Homo sapiens: one gene and its partners. The protein of the gene in region 1 interacts with the protein of each later gene in a pairwise test. Each region holds a gene or a part of one and is shown on either strand. Other genes may lie near its edges.

Region 1 (5,474 bases):
TTGTAGTATAAAACTTAACAGCACCACAGCACCTAATCATTTTCTCAGGTGTGGCTTTGAGAAATAAACGTTTTATGTTAAAAATGAAAATACTTCACAATATGAGACAGCTGGCATTTGAATACTTTTCCCAGTATGTTTGTAAACATTTTGGATTCATATTTCATATTAAAATGGACATTTAGTAGGATTATTAGATGAAAAGGGTCCCCCAGGGGATATCTAATATCAAATTATCTGCAGGACATCTTCTCCAGAAAGCAGACTGACTGTAATATGAACTAATTTTCCCCCCTTTGAGTTGCTTGCAAGAATCTCTGAGATCTGACACTGATGGGCTACAGTAATCAGCAGTTCTTGCAGTACTCAAGACATTTTAAGGGGCAGGAAATCTTTCCTATTTCCAGTATCTCCTTTTTGGGGGCAACAAGGGTAAGCTGCTAGTTTTAAGTACATAATTTGAACTTAGAGATTTAAGATGCTCCTGGCTGTACAGGAAAACGCCTGAAAACAGCATGGGCCTGGATGAAGACGCTGCTTTTGAAAGCAAAATGCCAGTGTGCTAGGTAGCGGTTTTTAGTTACAAATTCTTAAAAAAAATTGTTACTGAACTAGGTTAGCTGAATTGGGGGGGGGGTCTTTTTGTAGTTTTTGGATTTTGTTTCCACATTTAACTATACTTATAAAGCTTTTGGCTTTCTGAACTTATGATGTAATAGACTGCGTAGCCTTTTGTGGCAGATGCTTGGAATGAAAGTTTCAAACATAATTGTTTTTGACTGAGCTGTCAGGTTCAGAGTTGAGTGTAAATGAGTCCTGTCTCACAACTAACTTTTTTGATAAAGGAATTCTTTGTAGTTTTCGATTTGGATGTTGCACATTTTGATTTCTAAAGTTGTGGGTTTTTTTTTTTTTAAGAAAAATAAAACCTGCAAACAATTATTTTATTACATGAAAGCCAGTACCAAGAAAAGATTAATTCAGTCCAGATGTAAAAATGTATGTGAATTTTAGATTTGGATGATCTCAACAAGTTTTCCCTTTTGTGGATGGGACTGCCTGGATCCCAGATGGCATTCACAAATTATCCCTTAGGTAGTTTTCTGAGTTGAGAATGAGATTTCTTGGGCTTTCCCTAAAATCATTTTAATATTAAGTCTTCTAAAGGATAGAAAGTTTTTTGCATTTGTACATTTTTGCATTTTTCTGTTCATTAATACAAACCTCATAAATGCCCTAGTTTGGTAGATGAAGCATATTTCTTTCATAAGTGGGAAAACAGGAGGTATTCAGTTTGTGTATCCTTATGGGTAAAGCATAGAAATTTTGGCTCTCATTTTTGCAATTTCAACTTTCTTCTTTTAAAGTAAAAAAAAAAAAAAAAGTTTTAAGTGTGTTTACAATCCTCAATAGAATCCTACTGTAACACAGTTTGTGGATTCAGGTATAGCAATTGGTCCTTGTTTGATGATCCCCTACCTCCTCCCCACCCCCAACGAGGAAAAACAAACACAGTTTATTAAAAAGTCAGTATGTTTTTAAACGTGTACTCCCAGTACTAGAGTTATAAAGGCTGTTTGTTGCACACATTAAAATTATGTATTTTTAGAAAGTCTTTGTATGATTATATCATTACACATTTTGGGAGTGTGTTTATGTCGTGATTGTGTATAAAACAATGGAGAGTTAGGAGAGGGGAATGGGAAAGATTTAGTGAAGGAGTTTTATGAGTAGTGAAATTTCAGTTATAATGTATGTTCCCCAAAACCCAAACAGGAAAAATGTTATCGTTGGTCTCTGTGGTTAAACTTTTATACAGAGGGTAGTTGAGAGGGCTTTCTGAATTGCACATTATCCTGAGGAAGAGGCTTTGGGGGCCTTTAAAAGTAAGTAGAAACAAGTTAAAGGGATAATTTGAGAGGAACGAGGAAGTGGAATACTGGACATTGAATTGCAAGGAAAAAGTTAGAAGGATAAGTATTTAAAACAAGGCTGAAGTAGAGAGAACTTACTGTTTAGAAGTGTAGATTAAAGAATAAGGTATTTTTAGCTGAGAAAAAAGGATCAGAATGATTAGAATCAAGGTGCCCTATAAGATCTGTATACAAACTTGAAATAGGACTGCTAATTGATAGTTATCCTGGAAATTTTGCCTGTCTTTGTGTTGAATCACTAGTTTGGTGTTAAATAATGTGCAGGGACTGGATGCTTATAACTGTATCCCGTACACTCCAAAAGCCACTTCCCATTTCAAAGACTGGAAACATTTTTTGTTTAAGTGCTAATGATTCTACAAATATTTAATTAGTCCCCCAACATTTGAGGAAACTACTAATGTCTACTTCCCATGCTGTGGGACCAGAGGGGGCTCTACAGCAGTAATGGCTGAAGTTATTATGAAGTTTTAGGTAGAAACAAGCAATCTGTGCTTCTCATTACTTTATGCGATTTAGTGATGTAATTACTTCTGATGCAAGTTTGTGTATGATCACTTTTTGTATATATCAAATGGAACAGAGCAGTCATGCAGTATATATACCATATTGATCAAAGATGAATTACAGAACACTGAGAAGGGGAAAGAAATCATTGATCTCTCAGCTGATTGTATTGCTTCAAGTCAAGAAGAGAAAAATGTGCTGAAACAAATTCACAGATGAACCAAATACAGTCGCAAGGAGAAGGCAGTGTTTTCCTGGAGCTTCCTTGGAGTGGTCTGTAGCATAGCATTTTCTTTTCTTTTTTTTTTTTCTGAGGCGGAGTCTCGCCCTGTCGCCCAGGCTGGAGTGCAATGGCCTGATCTCAGCTCACTGCAGCCTCCACCTCCCGGGTCCAAATGATTCTCCTGCCTCAGCCTCCCGAGTAGCTGGGATTATAGGTGCCTGCCACCACGCCCATCTAATTTTTGTATTTTTAGTACAGATGAGGTTTCACCATGTTGGCCAGGCTGATCTCAAACTCCTGACCTTGTGATCTGCCCGCCTCGGCCTCCCAAAGTGCTGAGATCACAGGCTTGAGCCACCGCGCCCGGCTAGCATGGCATTTTCTTGAATGTCTTTCCCCAGCTGTATGGTCTTGTCTTAGCAGAGTTAAATTGATATATCAAGAAACTAGGTAGAGATTTGGTCATTATCCAGGTCATTGCATTAATGTGCTGATAATTGGGATAATTCTGACCAAAAATATCTATTTAGACTCTCAGTATTCCAAATGGATCCTCTTGGGGGTGTTTTCAGATGTTTTCCAACAACATTATCTTTGTACATGTTTTATACAACTTTGAGCAATAATGTTTTACTGATACATGAAGACAGAGGGAAAAACAATATTTTGAATTAATTTATAGCCACAGTTTCATGTGAGGGAGGAAATCATTTAAAAAAATTAAGCAATTTCTTGATGCATATTTTAGGAAATATAATGAAGTTTCTCACTTAGCTTTTCAGATGATTTTTCTCTCTGATTGGGTTAAATAAAATGTAATTAATTTTCTCCCCACAGGTAGTAGCACTTGTGTGTACAGTTTCAGTAGATGACTTTTTTTTTTGGTCCCTGTAGCTTTATTTCTTTGAACTTGTTACTGAATTATACACAACCAGACAAATGCACAGATCAGGAGTGTACAGCACAAAATGATCACATTTGGGCAACTAGCATCCAAATCAAGAAGCAGAACATTACCAGCCTCTCTTTACAGTCATCATCTTTGCCCCCAGGATAACCATTATGCTGACTTTTATTGTCATGGTTAGTTTTAAACTGTTTTTGGACTGCATTTAAATGCAATAAAATACACATTTTTTGGTCATCTTTAGCTCAGCATAATGTCATGTGATATATCCAAATTGATGTAGGTCGCAATAGGTCTTTTTTCTGTTATTTCTGTGAATGAATATGCCCAGTTTCTTTATCCATTTTGTTGGTGGATATTTGGGTAGTTTGAGGACAGTACATGGTAGGTGACCTTTTGATGGCTCTAAAAAATGTTGAGCACTTTGGGGTTGAAAGCAGAGTATGGTCTTAAAATTAAAAGAGAAAAAGTAACGTTAGAGGTAAGATGTGAGAGGAAAAAAAGCAATCTTAAGAAAACTTTAAAGGTTCCACTCAGCCACTGTATCCTAAGGATATAGTTTGGAATATACCAACTAGATATCACCAGATTTCAATTGAGAATTGGTAAGAGGAAGGAGGCCTTAGGTGACATCTAGCCAGCCCCATCATTTTTCAGAGATGGAGGCAGAGGTTGAATGATTCATACAGAGTCTCACAGCTGATGACAGCGCCAGTAGTAGAAGCTGCTCTGACTCTCAATCTTGTCTCCTCTAGTGCCACATGCTTGTTGGAGAGAGAGAAGGCAAGATCAGGGCTACCAACTGTAGCTGTGCAGGTTTTGCCATGCAAGGTGGGTCTGAAAACCAGCTCCCTACTATGTAGTCCAAGCAAGTGAGTCCATTGGGGGGCTCACTGCCTGGAGGATGGGTGCCCTTTTCTGATTAATGCAAAGGTATTCTATGGCTCTGTTCAGATAGACTCAGATCTGCCCAGAGGAAATGGATCTGTAGCCCAATGAGGCAGAATTTTTCTTCTTTCAGCCTGCTGTACCTCTGCCCTCCATACAGAGCTCTGTTGGGGCTTGCCTTTTCCCTTTTTTCTCTCTCTCTCTCACTTCTAGGGCTTCCTAATGAGACTTTGGGTTGTAAGTATCAAGTAGGAGATCTCTTGAGGTCCCTCTTGATTCACTCTTGTTGATCCATAAATGATCTAGGATGGACCCTAATTTCAAAGGACTGCTTTGTCAATATTTTTGGAATAATTCATCCTTAAGAAAATGTTTCAAAAATTCAGTTTTTGGACTTCTCCTGCCTTTATGCTTCTCCCTCTTTTCTCCCTTTTTGTGTCTTCCTTCCACCCCCATCCAGTTATCGTTTCTTAAAGATCCCTGGAAACATCCAATCTTTGTCTACTGAGAGCAGCAGTGAAATTCTGACGCTAAAATCTGTGGCAGTCTCCAGGAAGTACTTATTGTAAAACATAAGATTATGATTTCACTGAGAGATCTAACAGATAAAACAAAGTGCTTGCAAAGGAAAACTATTCATGTATACATTTTATTTTATGTTTCCCTAAAGAATAAAGGACAGTTTTATTACTTAAGAAAAGACTCAGAGCTTCAGCTTAAGCTCATTAAAAAGGTGAAGAGAAGTTAAAATTAGAGAATTTTATAAATATGTGGTATTTATATATCCTACCCGAATAAGATACTGCTTATCACAGCAAAAATTTAGCATATGTAATGTTAACAAGTAAAAAATATGCTGACCATAGGGCCACAGCTCTGACAAGTTGCTCATGAAATTACTACAGAATAGCGTAATCCGTATTGAAGACAGCATAGAAGAGGGATAGTAAAATATAATGATAGGAATGAGGTCTTCGAGATCAGTTCCCTGGGGCCCAAATCCAGACTCCAGTAT
Region 2 (3,500 bases), on another chromosome or scaffold:
TATATACATAAAATAGAACATTATTTAGCCTTGAAAAGGAAGCAAATTCTCATACATGCTAAACATGGATGAACCTGGAAGACATGCCAAGTGAAATAAGCCACTCACAAAGCACAAATATTGTAAGATTCCACTCATACGAAGTACCTAGAGTAGACAAATTCATAGGTACAGAGGATACACTGGTGGTTGCCAGGGCCTGAGGGAAGGGAAAGTGGGGAGTTAGTGTTTAATGGGTAAGGAGCTTCAGCGAGGGAAAATTAAAATGTTCTAGAGATGGGTGCAGAACAATGTGGAAATATATTTAATGCCACAGAACTATATACTTTAAAATGGTTAAAATGATAAATGTTACGTATATTTTACCACAATAAAAACATTTATAAATGATTTCTCTTGGCCAGATATGTATAATAGCACAGGCTTGTCACTGAATGCAGTCAGATTACAGTTTGAAAAGACTTCCTAAAAGTCTTTTATCAAATAAAAAACAGAGGAAAAAGTAAATATGAAAGTAAGGAAGAGCTTGTTTAATCTGTGGTTTAAAAATCTTGTGTTTATTTTTTATTTTTTTTTTAATCCTAGATTACGTTTGGCTTCTTTTGATAGTAGTGGAAAACTAATATGTAGTAGAACAACTGGCTATCAAATACTTACACTTGAAAAGGATCAGGTATGTTCGATTATCTTCTGGTATGTCATCATAATATTTGTCTTTTGAATCCTCTTTTGAAAATTCTTAAGTAGAATTAACATTAAAGTGATGGCATTTTGACCTAAAAGTTGGTTTAAAAGTCTTTTGAAGGTAAAGATGAAAGTACCACATTCACTTATGCATAATTGACCCCATCCCAATGGAAGCATAATTAGGAGAAAAAAAGAAAACACTGTTTGAGGGGCAGGGAAACACTGATTATAAGGAAATAATTGTTTATCCTGAATATCAGCAGCACTAAAATTCATTCCTAAAATTTTAGGAATCTTAAGTGCTTTATCCATTGTGTACATAGTGCATTTATTTATACATTCACAGCAGGCATCTTAAAGACAATCCTGTATGTCTCCATAGCTCCGAATATCATAAGAGCATTATTCTCTAGCCCATTAGGTTCGTAAGATGGCAAACTCTGCAATGTTCCCCAGATTATCTCCAAAGCCATTTATTTATTCATACATCACACACATGGAGAAGTTTCAAAGTGTCATGATGAGAAAGTAGACCATTTTTAAAAGTAAAACTGAAAGCTGTTAAAATATTGAGGAACTTTATTTCTATTAAAAGTAATCATCATTCCAAAGGGCATAATGTTTTATTAAAGGATTCAAAGCCTGTTATAGTTTACATAAATTATGAGAAGTTAGTAGTTTTCCTCAGACTGAAGAGACTATCATAGAACATCCTTAGCATTGCAAGTAACCCCGGAAGTGATCATTGTAACCTCACATGCCCTATATGAGAACTTCTTTTAACAGCATTCTTACAGAGGGGGTCATCCACCCATTGTTGAAACTCTAACTGACCCCCATCTTACATGAAAGGTAATATGTAGGAATGTCCATTTCAAGGCAGGTATATAATGAGAAAGTCCAAATCTGCCTCCATCAGAACTCTCTGTTGGTCCTTCTTGTAACCTCTGCAGCTGAACAGACAATGACTATCTTTATCTTCTACCTGAAACTTCATGAAAAATACTGTCATGGCTCAAACCCAGCCAGAGACCTAAAAAAGCACCAGGCCAAGATAATAGTTGTATTCCCATGTTCCTTCAGCAAACATTTGTGTCCCCACCATGTGCTTGGTTCTCAGCTAGAAGTAGAAGAAATAAAGACAGGCTTGTGTTAATATAGCCTAGTGTAAGTAGCATGATAGAATTAGCTCAGAGTGTGCAACCTTGAGGGAGAAGACTCTGACCTGTAACTGAGCAGCTGCCGTGGTTGGGGGTGGTTATTGGAGGAGGAGGAGAAAGAAAGACAGCTCAGGGAAAACATCCTCTCCTGGAAAAGTGTTAAAGTGAATGCATACCTGAACCAAGCCTCAAATGGTGAGTAAGATTTCCGGAAGCAAGGGAATACATGGGTCATATTCAAGGAACTGAAAGATGGTTGGAAGAGTTCAGTATAACTAGAGCCAGGGCATGAGGGCTGTGGATGGAGTTTGGGAGATTTACTTTGGGAGTTGTCTCCGTGTTTTATATAGGTTATAGATGTTGTCGAAAAAATAGAAAATATGAGTCAGCTGAAACAACAATCATACATGTACCACTCAGATACATTGCTGAGTTTTTCCTTCACCTGTATCATTTTTGCAAAATTGGATCACAGTAGGTTAGCTATTTTGTAACCTGCTTTTTTTTTTAATGGTGAAAAACATATATATTTAGAATTTGCCAGCTGGATTCAACTTAGATGATCCCAATTTTTTGGCAGCCTCTAAAAGCAGCATGCTCAGGAGCCAGCTGAACATGGGCTTTCTTCTCTCCATCAGCCCTGATCACGGTGTTGATCTTGGCCACATTGGTGTCATAGAGCTCCTCCACAGCCTGTTTGATCTTATGCTTTTTGACCTCGACATCCACAATGAACACAAGTGCATTGTTGTCCTCTGTCTTCTTCATGGCCAAGTCAGTGGCCTGGGAGAACTTGTTGGTCGCATAGTGGTCAGGCCTGGGGGAGAGGCAAAATGGGGTCACCTGGCCTGGGCCCAGTAGAAGAAAGGCTTGGTCCTCTTTCAGAGCCCAAGGCCAGGTGAGCCTAGGTGCATCAGACAGTGAGGTAGTAATTGTAACCTTTTTTTTTTTTTTTCACTTTGTTGTACATAGCTTTTTTTGGTCAATAAATATATATTCACAGCATCATTTTTATGAACGGCATAATATTAGTTGTTTTGGCTATACCGTAACTTAGATAATTCCTCTTTATTGGATAAAGTTGTTTCTCATTTTTTTTCATTACTATAGGAAATATACATATATCTTTGTCCATTTTTATGATATTTTTAAAGCATAAATTCCAAGAAGTAGAATTCTTGTTGCATGGTGCATACAATTTTCTAATGGCCAAATTGCCCTCCAAAGCTACTGTCCAATTTATACTTCCCCCTGGCAGCAGTACAGGAGAGTATACCCAATATTGTATCTTATTCTTTTTCATCTCTATCCCAGCGTAGTAAATGTGAAAACAAATATTTGTTTTAATTTTCATTTCTTTTTGTTTGTTTGTTTTGAGACAGAGTCTTGCTCTGTCGCCCAGGCTGGAGTGCACTAATTTTTAGTAGAGACAGGATTTCACCATGTTAGCCAGGCTGGTCTTGAACTTCTGGCCTCAAGTAATCCACCTGCCTTGGCCTCCCAAAGTGCTGGGATTACAGGTGTGAGCCACCGCGCCTGGCCCTTAATTTTCAATTTTCATTTCTTTGGTTACTGTATTGTTGGGTTTTTTTATGCTTATTGAACGTATCATCTCATGTAAACTGACAGCTTATATTGTTCCTGTTTAATTTT
Region 3 (3,500 bases), on another chromosome or scaffold:
CCACGAGGATGGCGATGCCATCACTGAGCTCAGACTAATGAAGAGAAAACATGAACCCAATATCTTAGGGGTTTCCTAGCCACCCCGACTGTGAATTGGTCATAATATTGTCTTTACAGGTTCTTAATTTAGGATCCATGCAACCCCTAAGGACTAACAGGGAGGCCTGTGGACCTTCTGATATTGCAAGCAAACCTTTGTGTATGAATCCATTTGTGCAGGGAAAGGTTTCACAGTTTTCATCAGTCTTAATATTAAGATCAACATGTTCAAGCTAAAGAATTCTAAGTATTGTTTATAAATAGCATGGAGACCAATATGTGACTTCAGGGACCCAAATGGAATTATTTGCCTAGTGGAACTAAGGGTCAATTTTACTTGGGAAATGTGTATAGTAAATACTCATTTATTCAACAAATACTTATTATGGGCATAAGAATATAGTGTATACAGACACAAACACTCACACATTAGACTAAGTCATTACAAACTTCACACTGAAACAAAGAACTAGTTCTAGGGGAGAAATGTCAACTTTTAAATTCCTTTGCTCTTTTGACTTAGGAAGAGATTCTATTGTTCCTATTTACCCCCTTCCCAAGACTGGCTGATGGAGCCACCAGGAGCACTGGAGGGGCACTTGGGAGACCCATGCGCTTGGTCCAACTCTACCCCCAACTTCTCTGTGATGTTGGGCAAAACATATATTCAATTTTGACCCTAATTTTCTCACATTTAGAAGGAGAAGATTGGACCAGAACAGTGATTATAAAATATTTTAAAGCTGCAGAACCTTCTTCAAGTGAAAGCTAATATGGAGGTGAAGCTGCTTTGGCCAAACAGGAGCAAGGGTGAGGGTCCCACCAGTCTGTTCTTCTGTCCATCTCACATGAGTCTCCAGGCTCTGAAGGAAGGAGTGTGAAACAGCTACCATCCAGTTCTATTATGCTATGCTTTGGGGGAGGTGGGCAGAAGAGAAGGGGGAATAAATTGTAACTGGATTCAAAAATAAACAAATGTTGTGGATAATTTGCAAAATCTGTTTCTTTAGGACTTAGTGGCCACTAGCTGTAATTGGTGTTGCCCAAGAGTTTTGCTTCCAAATTTGATTTCAGCACTGATCTTCACAGTAAAACACTGATCAAATGTGGAACTGATGATTCTAAATGAAAGAAACTGAGTAGTGGAACTGCTCAAGTTCTCGGTGCCTGGAGTGGCTGCACCTATTGGAGTACCCAACTCCACTTTTATCTGTACCAGATGGATAAATTCTGACCTGCTCATGAATGAAACCAGGTTGGCAGGTTGGTAATGTGTAGAGGGAGACACTGTCTTTCTGTCTGCTCAGAATTAGGGGGCCATGGCTGAGGCCCTGGGGTCAGGGGGAGACACCACACTCAGAGGGGTTTTTAGGCAACTGGCCCTGGTGACAGGAGGGCCAGCACAAGTCTGTGTTTTAAAGCTGTTCTGTAACTGCATGTCATCAGTGTAACCCTCCCTCACTAAGAGTGCGGGATAAAAGGCATTGAGGAGGGCCAAAGAAATCTTTCATGGGTGGATGAAGGAAAGTATTCTGTGACTAGGGTAAAAAGCTGTCCTTTTCTTATCTGTAGTCTAAACTTCACATAAGCTGGAGCAGTTTGAGCTTTTGCTGGGTCCCCTAACATTGCTCATCATCAGCAACCTCCAAAGGGCACAAAAACAGGGATCGTGCCGTTCTGCACCACTTCCTGAACCTGGGCACCCCTGCCCTGTCTCGCCTGGTCCCCCACCGTCCAGGGAATTTGGTGTGTGCCTCGTGCACAACTGTGCACATGTCTTCCTGCAGACCTTGTGTGCCCTCCAGTGTCCCATGGCCCTGCGTGGCTTGGGCTTCCTCCTCCACCGCAGGGAGCCACTCACACTGGCCCCAGGAAGGCCCTAAGGTGTGGGGATGGGGAGGGGTTGCGGGAGGGAGGGAGCAGCTCTGTTACCTTCTGTCTCTGGAACACATGAGTGAGGGGAGCCACCTGGCAGTCTTTGTGTGCACCAAACACCTTGCACAGAGAGCAGGTGGGTACTTCGCAGTTCAGACAGTAGATGTTGATGCGCTCCTCTTCATGTTCCTCGCACATGGGCTGGTCGGATTTCTTTTCTGGCCTGGGAGGAGGTAGGCAGATAAATGTCCATCAGCTCTCACTGGGGCAATCTCATCAAGGCAGAGCTGATGTTGCTCTGCCTTGCAAATTCCTTCTCTTCCCTGTATGCCCAGCAATTCTATTCCAGAAGACCCCCAGGGGCCCTTTCACATGCTCAGAGCCCACCAAATTCAGCTTCCCTGCAGGTGTAGCAGGGGAGTGCTGGCAAATCTCTAACAACCTGCTTGGGGTAGGGACAGAGACGTGGAGATCCTGATTTGTACCATTTGCCCATTTCCATGGTGTATTTCCACATGGCCAATTTTAAGTTATTTAAGGTTTCAGAATCTGGTAGTGAAATTCCTGAAAGTAGAATATCGAACCCTGGTGAGCCATCAGGAACGTGGTCCAGCACTGTGTCTACATGCTCACAAGTTTCTCAAGGGACACTTTCCCATTATGGACCAAGAACAGGAAATTGTTGATGAACTAAAAGTCGAGTTTGCACCAGCTTTTAGGAGTAGCTAGATCGCCCCCCTCCAGCCTCTGGCCCCAGGAAAGACCCTTTTCACCTGAAGAAATGAGGATAGGTGTGGCTCACATGGAACCAAAATCTTCTGATTATTAATTCAAGTACTGGTTGGATGCAAATGTGTATGAGACGCAAGTGTGGGTGTACCTCCTTATATAAACCCCAGGAATTCTGATATATCCTATCTAATGACTGAGGCTGCTAATAGTTTTCAGAAGTATTCAAAAAATTCAAATCCAAATCCAGAAGCTTTCTTCAAATTTCCAAACACATAGTTATTTAGCAACATCTTAGATTTGGGACTACATTTTGTTTTGTTGCTATACAGATCCAATTTTTAAAAACTACAGGTTTTTATGAGCCATGAAATCAATTTAGGGAGCTATGATCTGCATTGTTAAAATAAAAATAGAATGGAATAGCAAATACTGTGAATTACATGTAGTAAAAATAAGTATTGCTGTTCGAAACTTTTGTTTCAGGTGTACGTGTGTATATATGTGACTGAAACAAAAGTATATGTGTGTTTGTGTGTGTGTGTGTGTTTGTGTATGTGTGTATATACATATGTGTGTGTATATATATCCGTCCATATATGTAAGTGGTCACAATGTAAAATGCACTTCCTACTGTAAATCATGAATACAAGTGTTTGAAACCCATCTTTTTTGATGTGTGGTATCTTGTAGCTGCAGACCCAGAACTCAGAGAAAGGCAGAGAACGTGCTGATGTGCCTCTGTAAGACGCTAATGTTCCTTTATAAGTTGCTAGGTGGACGTCAATTACTTGAGATTAGGCTAAACATTGGGAGAAGCCCTGGGTCTTGTAAGAAAATTGCACGGACTTCCAG

Evidence for each region. Proteins that work in one complex are often made in the same cells at the same time.
Region 2: the proteins of FRMD6 (region 1) and GMCL1 interact in a two-hybrid assay, tested with the Homo sapiens proteins (one large-scale study listed by BioGRID).
Region 3: the proteins of FRMD6 (region 1) and TRIM55 interact in a two-hybrid assay, tested with the Homo sapiens proteins (one large-scale study listed by BioGRID and IntAct).

The regions. Positions count from the first base shown.
Region 1 is NC_000014.9:51,653,679-51,659,152, forward strand, and holds part of FRMD6 (FERM domain-containing protein 6), read left to right. Parts: intron 1-4,326; exon of another isoform or gene 4,327-4,402; intron 4,403-5,474.
Region 2 is NC_000002.12:69,871,160-69,874,659, forward strand, and holds part of GMCL1 (germ cell-less protein-like 1), read left to right. Parts: intron 1-585; coding exon 586-673; intron 674-3,500. UniProt on the Homo sapiens protein: Possible function in spermatogenesis. Enhances the degradation of MDM2 and increases the amount of p53 probably by modulating the nucleocytoplasmic transport.
Region 3 is NC_000008.11:66,133,629-66,137,128, reverse strand, and holds part of TRIM55 (tripartite motif-containing protein 55), read right to left. Parts: intron 2,140-3,500; coding exon 1,974-2,139; intron 35-1,973; coding exon 1-34. UniProt on the Homo sapiens protein: E3 ubiquitin ligase that plays an important role in regulating cardiac development and contractility, muscle growth, metabolism, and fiber-type differentiation.